Regions from separate parts of the Homo sapiens genome. Here regions 2, 3, 4 and 5 are each linked to region 1. Evidence: fine-mapped expression QTL. A gene starts in region 1. Each other region holds a variant in brackets. All regions are shown on one strand. Distances are from middle to middle. Region 1 holds the start of DCTD (dCMP deaminase). Region 2 has its middle 32 kb from the start of DCTD. Region 3 has its middle 70 kb from the start of DCTD. Region 4 overlaps LOC105377576 (a long non-coding RNA gene). Region 5 overlaps DCTD (dCMP deaminase).

The links. PIP is the estimated chance that this variant, and not a neighbour inherited with it, causes the effect. A credible set is the group of variants that fine-mapping cannot tell apart.
Region 2: its variant is the best candidate, but not a certain one, in a credible set for the expression of DCTD in whole blood (TOPMed, PIP 0.71).
Region 3: its variant is the best candidate, but not a certain one, in a credible set for the expression of DCTD in whole blood (INTERVAL, PIP 0.76).
Region 4: its variant is the best candidate, but not a certain one, in a credible set for the expression of DCTD in whole blood (TOPMed, PIP 0.53).
Region 5: its variant is the best candidate, but not a certain one, in a credible set for the expression of DCTD in transverse colon (CEDAR, PIP 0.62).

What each region holds. Positions count from the first base shown.
Region 1 is chr4:182,915,344-182,919,462 of GRCh38, forward strand. DCTD (dCMP deaminase) reads right to left here and starts at 2,043. Exons shown (of 6, transcript NM_001921.3): 1 at 1,968-2,043; 2 at 118-232. The coding sequence starts at 225. RefSeq lists a silencer at 1,675-2,384 and an enhancer at 3,958-4,007.
Region 2 is chr4:182,882,884-182,887,002 of GRCh38, forward strand. No RefSeq gene overlaps it. Among named protein-coding and RNA genes, the nearest start is that of DCTD, 32 kb to the right of the region's middle. The variant G/T (reference allele first, on the strand shown) is at 2,427.
Region 3 is chr4:182,845,432-182,849,550 of GRCh38, forward strand. No RefSeq gene overlaps it. Among named protein-coding and RNA genes, the nearest start is that of DCTD, 70 kb to the right of the region's middle. The variant C/CAA (reference allele first, on the strand shown) is at 1,948.
Region 4 is chr4:182,874,463-182,878,581 of GRCh38, forward strand. It overlaps LOC105377576 (a long non-coding RNA gene), which reads right to left. Exons shown (of 3, transcript XR_007058403.1): 2 at 3,049-3,298; 3 at 1-416. Among named protein-coding and RNA genes, the nearest start is that of DCTD, 41 kb to the right of the region's middle. The variant G/C (reference allele first, on the strand shown) is at 2,422.
Region 5 is chr4:182,888,721-182,892,839 of GRCh38, forward strand. DCTD (dCMP deaminase) reads right to left here. Exons shown (of 6, transcript NM_001921.3): 6 at 1,371-2,757. The coding sequence ends at 2,679. Among named protein-coding and RNA genes, the nearest start is that of DCTD, 27 kb to the right of the region's middle. The variant C/T (reference allele first, on the strand shown) is at 2,478.

The DNA.
Region 1 (4,119 bases):
CAGACCGACCCTGCACTTTTAAGTTGACAGGCGTCCACTGAGTCTCCCCTTTCTGCTCATGTGCAGTAATCTCTTTGCCTGTGAGTATCTAAGCATTCTCCCGTGAAATTCATTTACCTGGGAATTTGGATCTTTGCTTCTCTGTGCTGATAAGAAGGCCACAGCCATAAAATACTCTGGCCATTCCAAATAGTCGTCCCGTTTCTTGCAGGAAACTTCACTCATGTTGGGTCTAGAAGAAAAACATGACAAAACAGAAGTTGAGAGAAGCATTTTAGTAAGTCTGTTTTCCAGTTCAACCCAACCACACTGAACCTTTAAATCTCTAAACATGGGCAACTTCAGCTACATTTATCAATCAGAAATCACAGCACATGGGCCCTAAACAGTCTCTGGTCTTAAGTAAAAACTTAAGAAATTTCCTATTTCAGAAGTTTGAATTTGAAACCTATAGCTTCACGTTCCCAAATATTTCATCTATTTACTGCTTTCTCATAGGATTTTTTATGCCAGCCTACAAATTGTTGTGTCCTTTACCTGTCTCCCTTACAAAGCGGAGTCAGCACAGGAGGAGGGTGGAAAAAAGAAATATTTATTGATCATCTATAGATTCCAGACATTGTTAAAGTTTATACACATCATGTCACTCAAGCCTTACTCCTAGCTAAGGTAGACAGTGCCATCCCATCTTACACAGACTCAGAGAACTTAGGTAACTTAACCTAAACCACACAGGATTATCATCCATGCCAGACGGATTCAAAGAAAACATCTGAAGCCTTCCCAACTCTGATATTAACCAGATAATTTTTCCCTTCCCTTTCTCCTCAATAATCCAGATGGGACAGAAGTTATCAACTCCGAGTAATGAATTACATGAGAAGAAACTATGAAAAACGTCAAGTGCTACTCCTAAAGCAAGGTTTTTGGAACGTAGTTTACCAGGGGCAAGCAGAGACTGTCTACGGCAGGGAGAGCCCACGAAGGGGGTCCTAGGACTTCAGGGGAGTGGTCGCTTTCAAAAGGAATGAAACAAGGGCAAGGAAGGAAGACAACACAAAAACGGGGTGGGTACCACGGAGAAATCTTGAGAAAGGCGAGGAATGTGGTCTAAAGGAAGGCAAGCATCTCCCAAAACTTCTGCTTCAGGCTCCACACTTTATTTAGGCATCTGCTACAGTGCAGGGCGGCAGTGCCTAAGACAAGGATGCAGTGGAGAGTGGGTGCTGGGAACCACGGTCACCCACTGATTACGCTGCCCCACATCTGAGAGGCCTGGCAACCCCCCTAACAGGAAAAGACAGGTGCTGAATCAGCCTGGTTTCCCACCTGGCTTTAGGGCCAGCATCCATCATCGCTGTGGGGTGCTGGAGAAGTACCTACTAAATAGGAGGGAGGGGGAGCCATGGGGGGCGAGGGAAGAGCAGGAGAGGGAAGGGTCCTGTTAATCCCCTGGGCGCCTTCTCCTGGTGTGGCTGAACGCCCACTAGAGCCCTGTGAGGACTGAGGCCCAGCTGTAGAAACAGAGAGAACTGGAGCTCGAATACAACGATTCAGGAAGACACATCCGGTCACCGTCCCAGGCACACCCCACGCCGCTCGCAACCCCGTCAGCTCTGATCCAGGGCCTACACCCGGCATTCCCAACCCACACACGGGCGCAGGAAGGGATGTGGTGTTCAGACGCCCAGCACCACCTCCCGGGGCACTCCAAGGGGCCCGGCCTCGCACAGGCCGCGGCGCCCGCCGAGAAATCGACCCTGGAGTGACTGCGGGGACCCCGAGCGCCCCCACCCCGCCCGCATTCTCCGATCTAAAGGCTGAGCGCGGCCGAGGCGCCCCCAGCGTCCGCGGCCCCAGGCCCCCGCCCGGCAGCCAGCGCCCCGCGCCACGCGCTCGGGACGGTGCCACGCGGCGGTGGCTAGGGGCGCGCGGGCCGCGTACCCGCACGGCTGGCCCCCGCCCACCATCCGGTGCCGGCTCCGCGCGCAGGCCGGTGCTCGTCCCCGCCGCCGCCGTGCTCAGGGAAGGAAGTCGGGGGAGGAGGCGGGGCCGCCGCGGGGCCGGAAGGGGGCAGCGGCCCGGGCGCCGCGCGTTCGCAGGACGGCGGCTGGCCCCGGGGGCCCGAAGCCCTGAGGGGAGGGAGGGAGGGACGGCGGGGGCGGGTCGCACGCCGCAAAGGCGCTGCTCCGCGTCGCCGTACGCCTCCCGGTCCCCGTGACGCAGCCCGCGGTCCGGCCGGCGGTGTTCAGAGCCCGAGCACAAACTACTTCCCGGGTGCCAGACCGCCCCGAGGTCGCCCCGCTGCCCGGGTCACGCGTGGCGCTGGGTGGCCGCGAGTTGGGCGCTCCCGGGCCTGACTGCACGACCGTCGGGGGCTGCTTGGTTTGGTGGTGGTGGCGGTGGTGAGGTTTTCCCCACCATCCGTGTTCCATCAACTGCTTAGAGACACGGCTATGGAGATTGTGATTAAAAGACGACCCCAAGAATCTAGTGCCGTGAAACTGGCGGGGCGGGAGGTGGGGAGACCTGGTTTGGGTCTCTGGAGTGAGCCCGCTGTGTCGCAGCGTCCCCGTGGGGACCCTTGGCCGGTGGCTGGGTCACAGTTTCACACACTGGATGGGGCAGGGAACTGGGTCCGGCGGGGGCGCTGTGCCTCGAGGCTCAGTGCCTCGAAGCTAGATTTGCATTTGGCTGCGCCTGACAGGCTTTCAGTTTCTGCTCAAATTGTGCGGAAGGGCCTGAGGTGTTTGCTAAAGCCTGCCGCGCCCTGCTCGACCCGTATCACCGCACAGGCACCCCACCTGCATGTTACCTCCTGGTAATGCTCGCCCACTTATATAGTGCACATTTTGTTGCAGTTGTTTCAAAGATGAGAAAAACAGGGCAATAGGAAAGACCATCAGTGACATTTCTGGAGTCGTATGCCCCAAGCAACTTAATCTGGTTTTCATGAACTTCGTTACCCTGTGCAGACGTCTAGCCCCTTACAGTGGTTCTAGCACAGAGAATGACAGAAGAACCCCTTTCTGTTTCATTCATGGGACTTGAGGGGACTGTCAGCACTCCATAAATAACAGCTACTGTAATAATCGCCAGTTCTGATCTGCACATCCCAGATTTGAACTGCTATTCCAAACAAAAGCTTGTTAACTATATTAATTTAGCCTAACGGAGGAAGAATGATGAGAGTAAACAGTTGGTTCTATCTAATTTCTCACTACAGCAGACACATCATTCTTCATCTCATGGTCCAGCTTGTAGATTCAATAATTAAATTATGTACTGCTCTTGGTGGATGCCGGGAAAGCAAAAGGGAGAAATACTTCATCGTTAACTATAGATTTTTTTTTTTTTTTTTTTGCCTTGATAAGACTCAGGCTTGAAAGAGCCACATAGATTAAGATGATGATTTTTAATTTCAAGTTGACTTTACATGGCTGTCTTGTTGCCGCTAAAATGTGTCATATATCCCGAGCCCCTGGTTTCCCTCCTCCTCCCAAATCCACCGCTTGGTCTTTGTCACACTCATCTACAGTCTTTGGGTCTTCATAGATCCATTTCTCTTCTTACCAACCTACAACCCATACATCACCAATTGCTGCTGCTCCTTCAACCACAACATCATTAAGCTTTCTTCCTTCCTCTGCTCGGTAAAGACTGTCATACATAATTTAGTTACTTCTCATCACTCTCCATTTTGGTCAACTCACACACTCCCCTCTGCCATAAATTCAAGCTCCTGCTTGCTGAAAACACATTACCCTGAATGTTCCCGCATTTCACTGAAAGTCCCTCATCTTAAAGATGACATCATTCATAATACAGGAAACCCTCCTGGTTCAGAGTTTCACAACTTGAGGTTTCAAATATTGTACACCAATAGTGAAGCCACGCGGCCAAAGGGGGGAGAAATATATTCCTTGGTATGTCTTTCTCATTAACACCTTGTAACTCCAAGTGTGACTGTAGGTGTTAAATCTCTCTTGCTAATACCTTGTATTTGGGCTTATAATTGAGGATCTTTCTCCACCTACTACAGATACAGAGGTTAGGTATGTGTTCAGCCCTATCTAGATTGGCCTTCCTTGAGGGCCTCACACAGGTTGAACCCAATCA
Region 2 (4,119 bases), 32 kb before region 1:
GGGGAGTTGAGATTGTGCCACTGCACTCCAGCCTGGGTGACAAGAGTGAAGCTCTGTCAAAAAGAAAGAAAGAAAGAGAGAGAGAGAGAGACAGAGAAAAAAAAAGAAAGAAAAAGAGAAAGAAAGAAAGAAAGACAGACAGACAGACAGACAGACAGACAGAAAGAAAGAAAGAAAGAAAGAAAGAAAGAAAGAAAGAAAGAAAGAGAACGAACGAACAAAGTCAACAGCGAACAGACACTTCCAAAGTGCCTTTCGGGCTATAACCGTACTGTCATCTAAGGCAGCTGGCACCTCAAAGCATGAGCCTACAGATTCTTTCATGGGGTCTACCCTGTCAAAATGATCTTCATTATAATACTAAGATGTTTTTTGCCTTTTTTCACTGTGTGGACATTTGCACTATGCAACCAAAGCAATGGTGAGGAAAAGTGAGGGTGAAGGAATCAGAGGCAGTGGCGCCCACGTGCACTCTTCACCACCACATGCTCAGGGAAGAAAACAAAGGCAGAGAAGTAAAAAGACCATTTCCCTTAAGATGTCCTCAGCGATGCCGGCAGGAAAAAGTATTACTTGTAGGGAACCTCCACGTTGACGAGTCATCTTTTTCACACTTCCTGGGTGAGATGGGAAGCGTGCATGAAGCACCTCTGCACGTTGTCCTTAGGAAGAGTGCCACGCTCTTCCTGTTTGAGTTGCAAGCTCAACTAGCCCCTTTGTTCATGGGATGCCATTTTTACTTCAAAGAAAGAGTGACTGTGGATACTCAGATTTGGGGACATGACAGACATTTTCTTGAAAATGAACAAAGTAAGCTATTTATCACTTTGAGGGAAATGAAGTGATCAAATGATAAAATTCACGCTTTCAAGATAAAATCCGAATTTTGGAAAACTTGTTATCGGTCACTGTGAACTTGACAGCTTCCCAGTACTTAAAGAGAGAGATTTTTCTCAAATTAGTGGTGATGTTTACAAAAGTGATTTGGGGACGTTGTATAATGAAATGTGTCAAGTCTTGAAAGATCTGCATCATTCAATGAACTGGTAGTTTCCAAATGACCAATAGTATCATGCATGGGTTAAACATCAATTCAAAATACAAGATAGACCAAATGATTTTAATGTAAGATAATAGGAAATACTCATTAATATGATTTCAGATTTCACATTGCAACTAGCTTTTAAGAAACTTTCATATATCAAATTGTGGTGTGGTATCAAAGACTATCCACAATTTTCTGAAAATGCTATTAAAATATGCCTCCCCTTTCCAACTATATATCTGGGTTTGGCTGGATTTTCTCCACATATTTCAGCCAAAACAACTTACTGCAACAGATAGAAAACACACAGAAATGAGAATCCAGCTGTTTTCTATTAAGCCAGACACGAAAAACAGTTGCAAAAATGTAACACGATGCTGCTTTTTTCATTAAACATTTTTTGTTGTTCTGGAAAATAGTTATTCTTTCGTAAAAGTATGTTATTTATGTTAACATGTAAAGGGTTTACTATTGGTATTTTAAATGAATTAAAATATTTTTTAAATTTCTCAGTTTTAATTTCTAATGTAAATATTGATAAATATAACCCATGAAACTAAAGTTTCTTTGGGGTCCTCAGTAATTTTTAAGAGTGTAAAGGGGCCCTGAGACCAAAATGTTTAAAAAAAATGTTAGCATGAGGCAGCAGGAGAAAGAGGCTCCAGAAGAAGCAGTAGCACAGGGAATGTTCCAGATTAAAGGGGCTAACGAGACATGACAACAAAATGCAATACCAAACTCTAGACTGTATCCCATATGGAAAACACCAGAAAGAAACGTATTGGGTCAACTGACAAAATTGGGATAGGAATAATAAATTAAAATATTCTAACCATGTTAAACATATTATTGTCAATAACTATACTTAACTATACTGGATATGAAAATGTCCCTATTCTTAGGAAACAAACGCTGAGTATTTAGGGGCCAGAGACCATGTTGTAACTGACCCTCAAGTGGTATGCGTGCCTATGTATATATATCACTCTTTCATAGCTGTGACCAGCTAAGAAACTAAGATTTCCTGCACAGGAGTTTGAAAGTCAACGTGAAGGTCACAAAATTCCTATGAAGCAAGTATCATTTTTCAACTCAACAACAACTTTAACACTGAGGATGCGAAGAACCACTGAGTAGAAATTACACAATTAAACTGTTATACAATTTTCCAAGCAAGGGGTATGTTGTGGCCAACAGCATGAATGACAGCAGTTACTAGCCTCTTTCTCCCCTGCAGCCTCCTCTATCGAATGTGGAATGCCAAGGACCCTGTCAGCCTCCCTTGCAGCTAGGGGTGGCCATGTGACTGGCTATGGCCCAAGGGATGGAAGAGAATACTTGCTGGGGCTTCTGAGAAAGTTTCTGCTTTTCTGATCAAAGG[G/T]ATAGCCAAGAGCAGAGAAGCCTCATCCCCACTCTGCCACCCATCTCCTTCTTGCATTTAGTGTGAATGGGATGCCTGAAGTTTTTGACAAAACAAGCCTGAAGATATAAAGCAAAAGACAGAAATAAAGAAAAAAACCTAGATCTTTGCAGACATCATGGACCAGCTGACCCAACTCCAGCAAATGCTTACCACCGTACTTGTTATGTGAGGAAAAATATGCTACTTGTTTAGTCACTGAGAGTCAGGGGCCTGTTACTTACAGCTACATGCATTACTAATGCCTACTTATTCAGAGGCTGGGGAAAGGCAGAATAAATCAAAAGGCTGCACACCATGCCCACCCCTGCAGAGGAAGCAATTCCAGAACAGAATGCCCATTTAAAACCTGGACCAAATGGCATGTTTAAGTTTCTAACAGTTTTCATTAACAAAAGTTAACATACAGAACTCCTACAACAGAAAGCATTCAACAGTGATTTAAGACCTGGAAAGGTCAAGAAATCCACTAATCGGATGGGTTTCAGTGGAAACATCGTCTCTGGGTGTTCTGCCAAGAGTGTCTGTTATTGCCAAATTCCTCATTCAAACCCATATATAAGAATGCTTTAACTGAAACGCAGAAGTCAAAAATAAGACATTTAAACAGTAATCTCCTGTCTCTCTTAAAGATAAATGTGCCCATTAGCCCTGGCTGCTAACAGGAAGATTTCTTTCTCTTACATTCCAGATGACAATTTTTTTCAAGCCATTCACAAAGAAATCAGCATGGAAAAAATAATTTAGGAGGTTGGCTCCTGCTCAGCTACCTCACTGAATTAAAGTGCAATCAAGTTTATAACTTTTAAGTGGAAATATTAAAAATGTGTATGAAGCCCCTCTGCATAGGGTCCCGTGCAGACATGGAGAGAAATGGTAGCCAGGCACCAAGATACACAGGATGCCACATGCGCTCTGTGGAGTTTCCAACCTCGTTAGAGCAGGACAAGATACATATGAAAAGTTAAATGACATGTTTCAGTAACAGTTCTAGACAGTAGAAGAGATATCATAAAACAGTACACGATTCATTGCCAGAAAGACAGTTGCTGACAATAACTGCTGCAGGATTTCAAAGAAGAAAAAATCACTTCAAGCTCAGGAAGGTCTGGGGAGACTTTACAGAGAGGGCGGGATCCAACTCAGTGTTGAAACATGCATGGAAACTGTGGATGGTCAAAGGGAGCACAGGAAGAGGCTCTTAAAAATGCTGGGTTTAGGCCATGCAAAGTGGCTCACGCCTGCAATCCCAGCGCTTTGGGAGGCCAAAGCAGGAGGATCACATGAGCCCAGGAGTTTGAGACCAGCTTGGGCAACACAGTGAGATCCCGTCTCTACAAAAAATAAAAAATAAATAACAATTAGCCAGGGAATTAGTGTGGAGATGCATGTCCATAGTTCCTGCTACTTGGGAGGCTGAGGTGGGTGGATCACTTGAGCCCAGGAGGTTGAGGCTGCAGTGAGATATGATCACGCCACTGCCCTCTAGCCTGAGCGACAGAGTGAGACCCTGTTTCAAAAAAAAGAAGGAAAAAAAATGTTGATTTTTAAAAAAGAAAAATCCTTCAAGGTAGGTGACTGGTGCAGGGAGGAAGGCCGCTGGGTGGCTGAGGCAGACGGGGCCAGGTTGGCGAGGCACACTGCACATTCAGGA
Region 3 (4,119 bases), 70 kb before region 1:
TTCTTTTTCTTTCTTTTCTTTTCTTTCTTTTTTTTTTTTTTTTTTTTTTGAGACAGAGCAAGGCTGGAATGAAACGGCATGATCTCAGCTCACTGCAGCCTCCACCTCCTGGATTGTAAAGATTCTCTTGCCTCAGCCCCCCAAGTAGCTGGGACTACAGGCGCATGCCACCACACCTGGCTATTTTTTTGTATTTTTTTAATAGAGACGGGGTTTCATCAGCTGGCCAGGCTGGTCTTGAACTCCTGATCACAGGTGATCCGCTCGCCTCAGCCCCCCAAAGTGCTGGAATTACAGGTGTGACAGGGAGTCTATTTCCTAGGGCTGCCCTAACACAGAGCTGCACCCTGGGTGGCTTGGAAACAGTAGAAATGAGCCGTCTCTCAGCCCTGGAGGTGCAGAGTTGGAAATCCAGGTGTCAGCAGGGCCACGCCTCCTTAGAAAGCTGTAGGACAAGCGCCCTTCCTTGCCTCTTCCAGCTCCTGGCAGCCCAGACCTTTCTTGGCTGGTGGCATCATCACCCCAGTCTTCATAGGGCCATCTTCCCACTGTGACTCTTTCCAAAGCCTCCACTTTTCTGTGTCCAAACTTCCCCCTTTTTATAAGGACTTTAGTAACATTGGATTAAGGCCCACCCTAATAATCACTTGATTACATCTGCAAAGACTCTATTTCCTAATAAATTCATATTCTGGGGTACAGGGAGTCAAGACATAGCATGTCTGTCTGGGGGGACACGAGTCGGTCCGCCACAGGGAGCTTCCAGATCCTCACCACGGGCTGGCAAGTCCCTCCCCAGCCTGGCCCGCCACCCTCTCCACCTCATTCAGGGACTCTTCCATTCACCCTGCACACTCCAGACGCTTCAACTCTTTGGAGTCCCTCAACTTCTTATTTTATCAACACCAGCTTTTGCGGACTGAGCTTCCCTAAATCCAAAAATCCAAAATCCGAAATCCAAAAATGCTCCCCAATCCAAATCTTGTGTGCTCAATGGAGCTTTTCAGATTTTCATATGTTCCACAGGTAAGTGTAACACAAAGATCTCGAAATCCAAAATCTGGAACACTTCTGGTCCCAAGCATTTCAGATAAGGGCCACTCAGCCTGTCTAAGCAGCAGGGTGACAAGACCCTGTCCAGGAGCTGAGGAAAGATCCCCCAAAGGAGAGCCGTGGGAAGTGAGGAGGGGGTTCCAGATATTTCCCTAAATGTCCTCCATGGAGGCTAAATCTGTTCTTGGCCTCTTCGGAATTAGCGTTCTTTCCACCAGTGAGGGCGACTTATCATCATGCCAGCCTGTCCTGCCCACAGATCCCCTTGTCACCTGCTCCACAGACCAGCACACCCCATGGCCTGCTCTTTCCTCCCAGCCCTCTGACACAGTTTCCTGATTTCAAGAAATGGAAATTATGTTGGTTCGTTCAACAAATATCTGTTAGGCACAGTGCTGGCGTTGGAGTGCACATAATTTATGTTAAGACAGATCAGTAAAAACAGTACAGATCGTGTGTGTGTGTGTGTGTGTGTGTGTGTGTGTGTGTGTGTGAGAATTAACTCCAATCCAGTCTCTAGGAAGGGGCAGAGGCTCCGTGTTTTAGTTAAATCTGTACCACAGGCTTCCTTCATTGGTATTGGGGTGTTAGCAATTCTCTTTCCCTTGTGAAACTGGTGGTGGTGGCCAAGCGTGCTGGCTCACGCTTGTAATCCCAGCACTTTGGGAGGCCGAGGTGGGCGGATCACCTGAGGTCTAGAGTTCGAGACCAGCCTGGCTAATGGTGAAACCCCGTTTCACAAAAAATTAGCCAGGCGTGATGGTACGCGCCTGTAATCCCAGGTAGTCAGGAGGCTGGGGGAGGAGAATCACTTGAACCCGAGAGGTGGAGGTTGCAGTGAGCTGAGATCATGCCATTGCATTCCAGTTGGGCAACAACAGCGAAACTCCGTCT[C/CAA]AAAAAAAAAAAAAAAGAAAGAAAGAAAGAAAAAAGAAAGAAAGAAAAAGAAAGAAAGGAAGAAATTGGTGGTGTTGGAGACACTTGGTGGCCTAGAAGCAAGTCCTCTGCTCTTGCTTGAACGGGATGTGGAAGTTGTAAGCCCCTAGACTCTCACCTTTGGGAGAAAGACGTAGGTCTAGAATCCTGACTGCATCTGGGTATACCTCTCCTCCCTGCCCCAGAGCCACTCAGCAGAGCATGTGTTGCGGGATTCATTTAGAAGGTAACTTGATCCTGCTGTCAGAATATTCTCACTTGTGTCTCACAGAGAATCTTTCCAGAAGGGCAGAGAGCAGAGGGGCTTCCCCAAGCCCAGAGGTAAAAGGCGTGGATTTGTGTTGTGCCTGCTGCGACCTGTACATTTGTCAGCAATCGGCTAGAGACTAGCTTTCATCATACACACCACCTGGCAGGGAGGCTGAGTGGGGAAGGCGAAATTCCCCGCCATTGTCGGAGGCTGGCGATATCTTCCAGACTATGGACAAGTTGGCTTAGGTCTGTTCTTAACCGCCCAGCAAGAGGTGAACAACAAAGAAAAGGTTCCTGATCTCACAGCTTAGAGACGAAGGACAGACAGCTGGAGGAATTTGCTCAAAAGAAATTGCTTACGTTTCGCCAAAGCTCTAGGTTTTTGCTTGGAGACCTCACTGGTCCGAGGCTGGCCAAGCCGGGGACTGCGTGGCGTTCAGCACTCCTGCGCCTCCACAGCCTGGGTGTGGGCAAGGACAGGAGGCCGCTGTGGCACTGCCCCTTCCACCCCACGCCCAGGAGCTCAGGGAGGAACCTGCCCTGGCTTTTCCAAGACAGAAGAGGAGATTCCACCATCAATGCACCAGAGGAAAGGGCCATGAACGTGGGGAGCCCGGGAGGCCCCGGCCATGCTTTGCCTGAAGGGTAGGGCCGAGGGCGAGGGGTTCCCTTCGTCACGGTGTGCTGAGAACAGATCGTCCCAGTGTTTTTGTTTGTTTGGTTTGGTTTGGTTTTTTGAGACAGGGTCTCACTCTGTTGCCCAGGCTGGAGTGCAGAGGTGCAATCACAGCTCACTGCAGCCCAGACCTCCTGGACTCAAGTGATCCTCCAGCCTCAGCCTCCTGAGTAGCTGGGACCACAGGCACGGGTCACCATGCCCAGTTAAGTTTTTTGTTTTTTTTTTTTAAGAGATAGGGTCTCACTATGTTGCCCAGGCTGGTCTTGAACTTCTGGGCTCAAGCAATCCTCCTGCCCTGGCCTCCCAAAGTGCTGGGATTACAGGCGTGAGCCACTGCATCTGGCCACCTTCCACTATTTGCTTCCATGCTCATTCAGAATTCCCCATGGTAAAAATCCTGTGAGGAATTATATCATAAAATTTAAAAATATATTATTTAGTGATATTTATAGATTTATTCTATAATACATTATTATATTCTAAGTAAGAAAATACGATGTTATAATAAACATATTCTATATTATGTAATAAATACATTGTATATAATAATCTATATATTATACGATAAATATATAGATAAAAATAAGATAAAAATCAATAAACCACATATAAATAGATCTGGCTGGGCCCCTCTCATCTTTCCTATCTCAGTCATTTTTCTGGGCCCCAGACACCTTCTTCGGGTCTGTAAAAGCCCCTCCAGCATTCGTGCAATCGAGGAAACTCGGAGGAGACTTTTGGTCTTTAGCCCCCTGGGGTTCAGGGAAACTCATGGACAAGCCCAAGTCTTGTGGCTCCTCTGCTCCCGAGTCCTGTCCCCCAGGCTCAAGTCACCCACAAAGCCTTCCCAGAGGCTGCCAAGGCCACGCGTAGCACACAGGGTCTCTGTTACCTTCCCGAGGGTAGGAGCAGATTCCTGCCATCCCCACAGTCCTGCTGGTGTCCTTCTGGCGCCTCTCCCACACCCTCCCTCTCCAGACCTGAGGGGCACTCTCCACCTCCAAGCCTTGACAGGTTAGAATCTCAACACCCAAGGCCAAACATCACTAAAACAGTGACAATGGGGACAGTCACCATGGCCTGCTCTGTGGCTGCAGGTGGTGACTGTGACAAACTGGAACAGACCCATCCCTGCTAAAAGCATTTGAATTTACTTCATAAAAATCACAGCAATATCTAAATCTTTTTGTTTGTTTCTTTGA
Region 4 (4,119 bases), 41 kb before region 1:
GCCATAAATACTCTTCAATTCAACAAATGCATACAAATGGTTTCCATTAGAATTTTAATCTACTCTCAAAATGAAAGAAAAGCTTAATATAAATCTTTTTAAATTACCAGAACATAAATTCACACAGGGACAGTTCCTCCTAGGCCACGCACAAGGGGTCGCATCCTGCCGTCCTCCCTCAGAAATTAATTGAGCTCTCTTGCCGCCGTAAACGAACAGTGCATCTGGAAAGATCGTATCTGTCAAGATTGCAGATTGGTTTCCCTCAGACTTTGTAAAAGTCACAGCTTACAATACGTTCATTATACCGATGAGAATGGCTGTCCTCCCAACTGGAAAGAAATAGGTGTTTTGTTCTGTTGGACCAAGATTTACAGAAAGCAATTTTCCTCCATGCAGGAGATATGACAAACCTGCTGGAAAAAAATGTCATTTCACAACTTCTTTCATTTCATCACCTTTTTTTACTGCTAGATGTAGATTCTCTCCCCTGTGCGAACGGGCTGTAGTGACATTTAATGGCTAAGTGAGGGAGTCACCAATGAGTGGAGGCACCTTTCTGAGGGGCTAAGGTAAGAGGGTTTCCATGCCTCTCCCTCTCCCCCTATGTCCGGGGCTGTCTGGAAGCGTCCCAGCATCTGCCGGAGTGAGGGAGGGACGCGGTGAGTCCCTTGAGCCCCTCAGCCAACTTGAACTTAGGAACTCATGTGAATCTTGTGTCTCTCTCTTGTAAGCAGCTGAAGTTGCCTCAGTTTTCCTGTTGTTTGCTGAGCCCAAGAACCCCAGCGTGCCCACTCTGTCCTTGGCTGACAGCAGCACGCTGTCTCAGGAGGACGGCTGAAGGGCAGAGTTTGGGCTTAGATGTTTTTTTTCCATTTCCTCATGTCATAACCTAATGCTGTTCTAGCAGAGCTTCTGCATATTAAATTGCCTTTTAGCCACTGGGAAGGGGGTGGCGTGATCTATGGAGAAAAGGACCCTCATGTAAATGTATGATGGTGACACAACCCCACAGAGGAGAAAGGGCAAGACTAACCCGGAGACCAGGGGTCAGCAAACCCCGGGAAACGTCACTCTTTACAGCCACTTCTCTCTCCTTGAGTCAAGAGCCACTGTTCCGAGCTTTCCGTCACAGCAGCTCATGGCAGCCCTATCACCGCCTGTTCTCTGGGCTGGGGCTGGTGAGAAGGCCGAGGAAGTCTGAGGCAGGGTGTGTGGGAGGGCTTTTGGTTCCAAGAGCTTCTCTGAGCTCTGTGTACCAGCGAGAAAGCAGGCAGCGAAGGCAAGATCAAACCTTGCTCCTGCCAAGCGGGAGAGGCTGGCTTCGGGTGGTAATTTGTGCTGCAGGTGAGGCTCCCTACCTGGGCGGCCACTTAGCTGCACCAGGCAGGGAGGGCAGGGCCACCAGAAGGCCTGGTGGGCATTGTTTCCATGGGCTGGAAAGATTTTTGCAAATCTTTCTGCAAATGATGATCTCTATCCACATAAAGTGGCATAATAGCCTCTTTGCTTTACCGAGTGCTGCTGGCTGTTCAAGTGCTTATTTCTTGATTCTTGGCCCATTTGCTTTCCATTAGCAGTAATCCCAAGCCTGCAAAACTCCAATTACTAAGTGATAATAGAAATGCAGCTCTGCCTCGGAGTCTCTGGAGCTCAGGGTCCAGAGTGGGCCAGGGTTCCACGCACAGCCACATTGCAATCATATTTATGACATGTGAGCAAGACATCTGGCCGGTCCCTGGGTTAAAGACCCAGGGGAGCCGAGTGGGCATTCTCAGGGGGTGTCTGCACCGCAGATCCCAGGGAGCTGGTGGAAACAGGACAGGTGTTCCCAAGACAGTCCAGGATGCTCAGACAGCGTAGGAGGAATGGAGGCTACAATGGACGGAGCTGAAGGAATGTGTGCTGCTCCTTTGAATTCTGGGGTTGGAGGAAAGGTGTGCTAGGGACTGAGCTGTGTCCCTCTCCCAAATTCATATGTCAAAACTTTAACCCTCCATGTGAGGGTTTTTGGAGGTAGGGCCTTTATAGGTAATTAGGTTTGGATGCAGTCATGAGGGTATCGCCCTTACGATGGGATTAGTAGCTTTCTAAGAGACCAGAGCCGTTGCTCCCGGCCCCACTCCCTGCCAGGTGAGCCCACAGTGAGAAGGCGGCCGTCCACAAGCCAGGAAGAGAGCCCTCACCAGAACCCGGCCATGCCAGCACCTGATCTCAGACTTCCCAGCCTCCAGAACAGTGAGAAGTAAAGGCTTATTGTTTAAGCCGCCCAGTCCCTTGTATTTAGTTATGGGCAGCTGAGCAGACTGCAACAGGATGACAGGAGAGAGAATGATTGTAGATTCAGAGTGAGGTGGGGCTCAAAGTCAGAACTTCAGAACTGAGCCCAAAATGATCAGAAAATTCACCCCCTAGGTGGCT[G/C]CTGGTGAAAATTCACTACTCTAGGGGCCAGGGCAGCTGTTTTGTATGTGTGTGTGTGTGGTAAGAAAACAAAAAAACAAAACAAAACAAAAACAACCACACACATAATAAGGCCAGGCACGGTGGCTCACGTCTGCAATCCCAGCACTTTGAGAGGCCGAGGCGGGTGGATCACTTGAGGTCAGGATTTCCAGACCAGCCTGGCCAACATGATGAAACCCTGTCTCTACTAAAAATACAATTAGCCGGACATGTGGCGTGAGGCTGTAGTCCCAGCTACTCAGGAGGCTGAGGCAGGAGAATGGCTTGAACCTAGGAGGTGGAGGCTGCAGTGAGCTGAGATCGTGCCATTGCACTCCAGCCTGGGCGACAGAGAGAGATTCCATCTCAAAAAAACAAAACAAAACAAAACAAAAAAAACACATAACATAAAATTTACCATCTTAACCATTTCTAAGTGTACAGTTAAGCAGTGTTAACTATATGCACACTGCTTTGCAATCAACCTCCGGAACTTTTCATCTCACAAAACTGAAAGTCTGTATCTGTTAAACAACTCCCATTTTCCCCTCTCCCAGGCCCCGCACCCACCATCCTACTTTCTGTCTCTATGTATTTGACACTCACATCATCTCGCGCAGGTGGGATCATCTGGTATTTGTCCTTTTGTGACTGTCTCCTTTCACTTAGCTCACTGTCCAAAGTTCGTCCATGCAGTAGCATGTGTTGGATGGACTTTCCTTCCTTTTCAAGGCTGAGTAAGATTCCACTGTGTGTTTACATTTTCTTTATCCATTCATCCACCGAGGAACACCTGGGCGACGTCCCCCTCCTGGCTGCTGTGAATAATGCTGCTCTGAGCATGAGTGTGGAGCGTCTGTTTACAAAGGAGATGGTCAGACAGTACAACAGCACTCAGGTCAGTCCAGCTGCCCCCTCATCCCACCAGCTCCTTCCCAAAAGATTGACCACTGGACTTTTTCTCATAGGAAGCACTGCCCTCCGCACCAAGCTCCCTTCACATCCTGATCAGCGCTGCTCTCGGCTGCTGCTTCTTGCTTCAAGCCCCCAGGAATATCTCCCTTTTTTTTAATTCCATTTCTCTCTCAACCTTAAAACTATCCACCACCCTTAGTCTGTTCCATTATCAAGCCCTTCTGCTGACTTTCACCAAGCACTGTCATTTCTTCTTCCACATTTTCTTTCAAATTCTCCAAGATCCTCTTTTAAATATACTAGCAAGGCAGACTCGCCTGACTTTTCCCTAGTTCACACCTAGGGACAAACAGATCCAAAAAAGTCAATAGAATTTGTAGGGGATCCTGATAAGGACTTGGCTGATTTTTGTTGCCTGGTTTAGACCGCTGCAGTTTTGTGCCCCTCAGAAATCTCATAATTTATGACTGCTGCCAGCGGGCAAAAATGTGGAGCGTTTGTCCTCAAACAGAGTCTGTTGTAAAAGTGTTCTTTCTAACGGTAAAGAGCAGCAAAGAAAACAGGCTGCTGTGTTCTTCCTCTCTGATGCCTCTGACCTCGTTGAGTAGCTTCTCACTCAAATTGTTCATTGTGGCACCAGCCACATTCTTTTTGAGATTTTAAAAAATTAACAGACTCCTTTTTTAGAGCAGTTTTAGTTTTATGGAAAAATTGACTGGAAAGTATACAGAGTTCCTATATTAATGCCTTGGTCTCCTCCCC
Region 5 (4,119 bases), 27 kb before region 1:
TCAGCTCACCGGGCTTGCAAGCCTACATTTGTATTCATGAGCTCAGCTTGTATGCTTGTTCTCTTATTTTGCTTCATTTTTAATTTAGGAAAAGATGGCTAATATATTAGATCACTTTCACTGCTGGGTCTTGTCAGGCTTCAGAAGTCTTTAAGGACAGACTGCTAAAAGAGTAAAAGGGAAGAAAGCAGAAAATGTGTCAGGGAAATGGAGTTCCTATCATTTCACTCACAAATTCTGCCTTTTAAATGTAGTCCTTCTACCAACGGTTCAGTGAAAGATGGTTTCCTTATTGTCATTTATTAGCCATGACAGGCAGCAACATTGGCTCAGATACAGTCTCCCTTCACCACAATTATCTAGTAATGCCTGCGAGGCAAAAGACTGCACAAAACTCCCTCCTTCTGGAAAGCTTCTCCCCAAGGCACCAGTTCAAAGCAAACCTCTATTAACTGGAACATGAACATCTGCAGAATTCTCTGGATAGGACAATTCTACTATTCTTATAGTGATCCTAGAAACGAAGACATAATCACTCACACTCCAGTCACCAGGAGACCAGGGTCGGTTCATAGGTGGAAGCATCACAACCCCCCAGCGACAGCATCTGCCCCCAAATAAACACCCACAACTGACCTCAGTACCAGGACTCCCCTTTTAGCAAGGACCCTTCCTGTCAACCTCCCCTCAAAGACAGAAAAAGAAAAAAGTCAATTTTTTTTCACTGAAACTGAATGTAACAACCAGACAAGATATAAGATAGTATCAAAATTACATAAATTAGATGCCCTACTGGCTTATCAGCCCCTAGACATATTTATCAATGTGATGTGATGAAAATGACACACTCCATCCTAACAGGACTCACAACTCTTGTGACTTGCGGCAATAGAGAAATCTCTAATTTTCTACCTTTAAGTCTACTGATTCTTTTTTCCACATACCTTTTGTTTTATGTATTTTGGAGCAAACACAGGGCGAGGAGTTTGGAGGAGAAAAGAGAAGGAAATTTAGGAGAGAAGAGAAGAGAGACTTGGAAAGAGGATAAGGTGAGAAGTCAGCAAAGGGCAGAACTCAGGACTGAAGCCTTCCGGGAGGACAGAGGCCTGGGCCCTACCAGATAGATGGCCACACCTGGGACCAGGGGCAGGGTACACAGGAGAGAGCGTAGGGCTAGCGGCTGCCTTCGCATTTTACATAAATCTGATCCATAAAGCAGCCCCAGACATCAACCCTGGGGAACGCACACAGCTTGGGCATCTCAAATTATTCTTTGAGCATTAAAACATATGTAATATGCTTCGGAGACAATACAGAAAGGACAGGAGCAGAAAATTAAGCATATAATTATAATAACATAAAAATGTACATGCTTTGGTAGGGTAGATTTTAATAAGATTTTAATAATATTGGTAAGGAGCCAAATTACAGAATACCCTAGAATGTGGAATACAAAATCTCAGAGACAAAATAAAAACTCATGAAAATATAAGAGCACTTTAAAAAGGTAATAATCTTTAGGATAAAGAAAGCCTTTTCTCAACACAGGTACTGAGCATGTTTAATAAAAATTAAATGAGATTAAAGAGAAGGGGCACAGCCACACGCTCCCCGCCCCGCGGTGATTAGGAAGGTGATGCTTGTGTAGGTGAAAGCATGGAGCCAGGGCACAGAAGAGCTCCGAACACCAACAGTGCTGCAGTAAGCTGTCTCCACGTGGGTGGAATTTCTCACAATCCACTCACGGGATAGGAATTAATTTTCTCTCCAGTTGCAGAGGGGCCTTGTACATGAACTGCGTTGGCATGCGGAGGAGGGGCAACACATCCATGTTGGGGACCCCTCCCATCCACAGCCCCAGCTGCCACCACGGCAGGGCATGGGCTTTGGGGGCAACAAGGAGAGACAGGCTGTCTCCTCTAGGAACAACTCATTATTCAGCTAAACGAAATGGAAGAGCTCCATGTGACCAACAAACCCAAATTGAGCCAAAACAACAGGCGTCCCCACCCCCCAGAGGGATAATGTGCCACCACCCTGTGTGCAGTGGGAGAGCAGGAATGGAGGAAATATTCCTGGTTCAGTTACACTCCTCGTCTGTCAGGACAGATGTGCCACCCTATCTCGGATTCCGGGAGGGTGGCTGGGGGTTTCCCTCAACTCTGCAGCAAACACTTCAATGCTACTGTCATTTGAGGCCTAATTTTCTTCCAAGGGCACTATATGCCATGCTTCACTTGGGCCAGATGTTCAGATCAGTGTGTCTGCTCGTCCCCATTAAGAACACAACCACAATTATTTATTTGTCCTTCCAGCACATGTAGCAGTGAAGAGAGGCTGCCGGATCGCAGCAGATGACAGACAGCTGATGCTCCTCTGAAGAGCCACCAGCATCCCAGCCAGCCAGGACACAAGAAGGGGAGGCACTCTCGTTCTAGCCCTGTGCACCAGGCCACCACAGGCTCCCCTATTTTAAA[C/T]CCTAAAGCAATAGTTCAAACACATGTAGATTCCATGTGACAAGAGAGACAGTAAGGAAGATTTGAGGCTTTATATTCTTTAGATGCCTACTTTTGCCATACTGGCTAGTAAGAAGTTATGTGTAACTTCAAGATGAAAGGCATTAGCAACCTCTTAGAAGACGATAATCCCAATCTTCTGGAGATTGAATGAGATGTAACTCACTGAAGCTTTTGACTCGGTCTGCTGTTAATTGAATCAAAGTCAATGACAATCTTGCTGCACTTCGGTATGAATTTCCTAAAAATAAAAACAAAATACAATTATTATCTGGTGAGTAGTGAAAGCAATTTGTTTACTTTGGCTTAACTCATATTTTCTGTGCAGAGAAAAATATGTCCTGGGATTCACTTGCTATTTTCTCTCTATAGGAGCCAATTATAGTGCACCATACCAAGAGAAACACAGAGCAGAAAAGACTAAGACAAAAAAAGATGCATGGGGTGGTGTGGTTTGTATGTTTTCAGCTCTCTGAGTTCACGAATTATTGGGGAGTCAAAGGATTTCTAACAAGTCAGCTGCACAACATGATATCCGATTACTAGTTTTCCCATCAGATTTATCTTATTTTCTAGAAAAATTTCTGCAGCCAACTTGGAGTCTCTCTAATGCAAAAAAATAGTAAATTTTCTTTTGCCGCTTATATATAGCAAAAAACGACTACCTTTAGTGAGGAGTAATTTTTCAAATTACATTCTAAAAATGCAAACATAAACCAACTTTTTTTTTTTTTTTTTTGCTCATTAACTTTTCACTTGTTCCTCATTTCTTCTACAACAATTAAAAAGAAGACATTTGGGAACAAAACAAATTCTTTTAAGAATCACTGAACAAGAGAGTATACAAATAATTTGAATTTAAAGTCTCAGAAGGCACCACGGTTGAGTTCATGAGATACACTGAGCTGTATCCCTAATGACCAGCACAAGGGGCCAGGGCACGTCACCTATGACCATGGTCCCACTGCTGCTGAACGCCAATACCATGAAGCGCTGGAAAACTTTACAGTCCCAAAGGAATTTTCTGCCATGAATCAAAGGTAGTTGAACTTACTTGCAAGTAAAATATAGCTCACAACCATTTCTTAGCAAAGATAATCATAAAAATCTGTAAGACTTCAAATCTCAATGCAAAATGTTGCTGTAAAAAGAATCCCCAGGTGGCTCACACCTGTAATCCCAGCACTTTGGGAGGCTGAGGCAGGCAGCTCATGAGGTCATCCTGGCCAACATGGTGAAACCCCGTCTCTACTGAAAGTACAAAAAAATTAGCTGGGTGTGGCAGGGGAGGCTGAGGCAGGAGAACCGCTTGAACCTGAGAAGCGGAGGTTGCAGTGAGCCAGGATCGCACCACTGCACTCTAGCCTGGTGACAGAGCGAGACTCCGTCTCAAAAAAAAAAGAGAGAATCCCCAATGTTTCAATCTGGCAGGCTACTTTCATCCTAAATTTTCTATGCCAAAGTTGTTACATTTGCAAAATTCACCAAGGTTTGGCATTCCTATTATAAAACTTGTGAATGTTTAAACTTCTCAGTACTTGAATAATTAGTCTAATTACCCCGGAAAGTTACTGAAATTAAAGTACAATCATTAAACAAATGG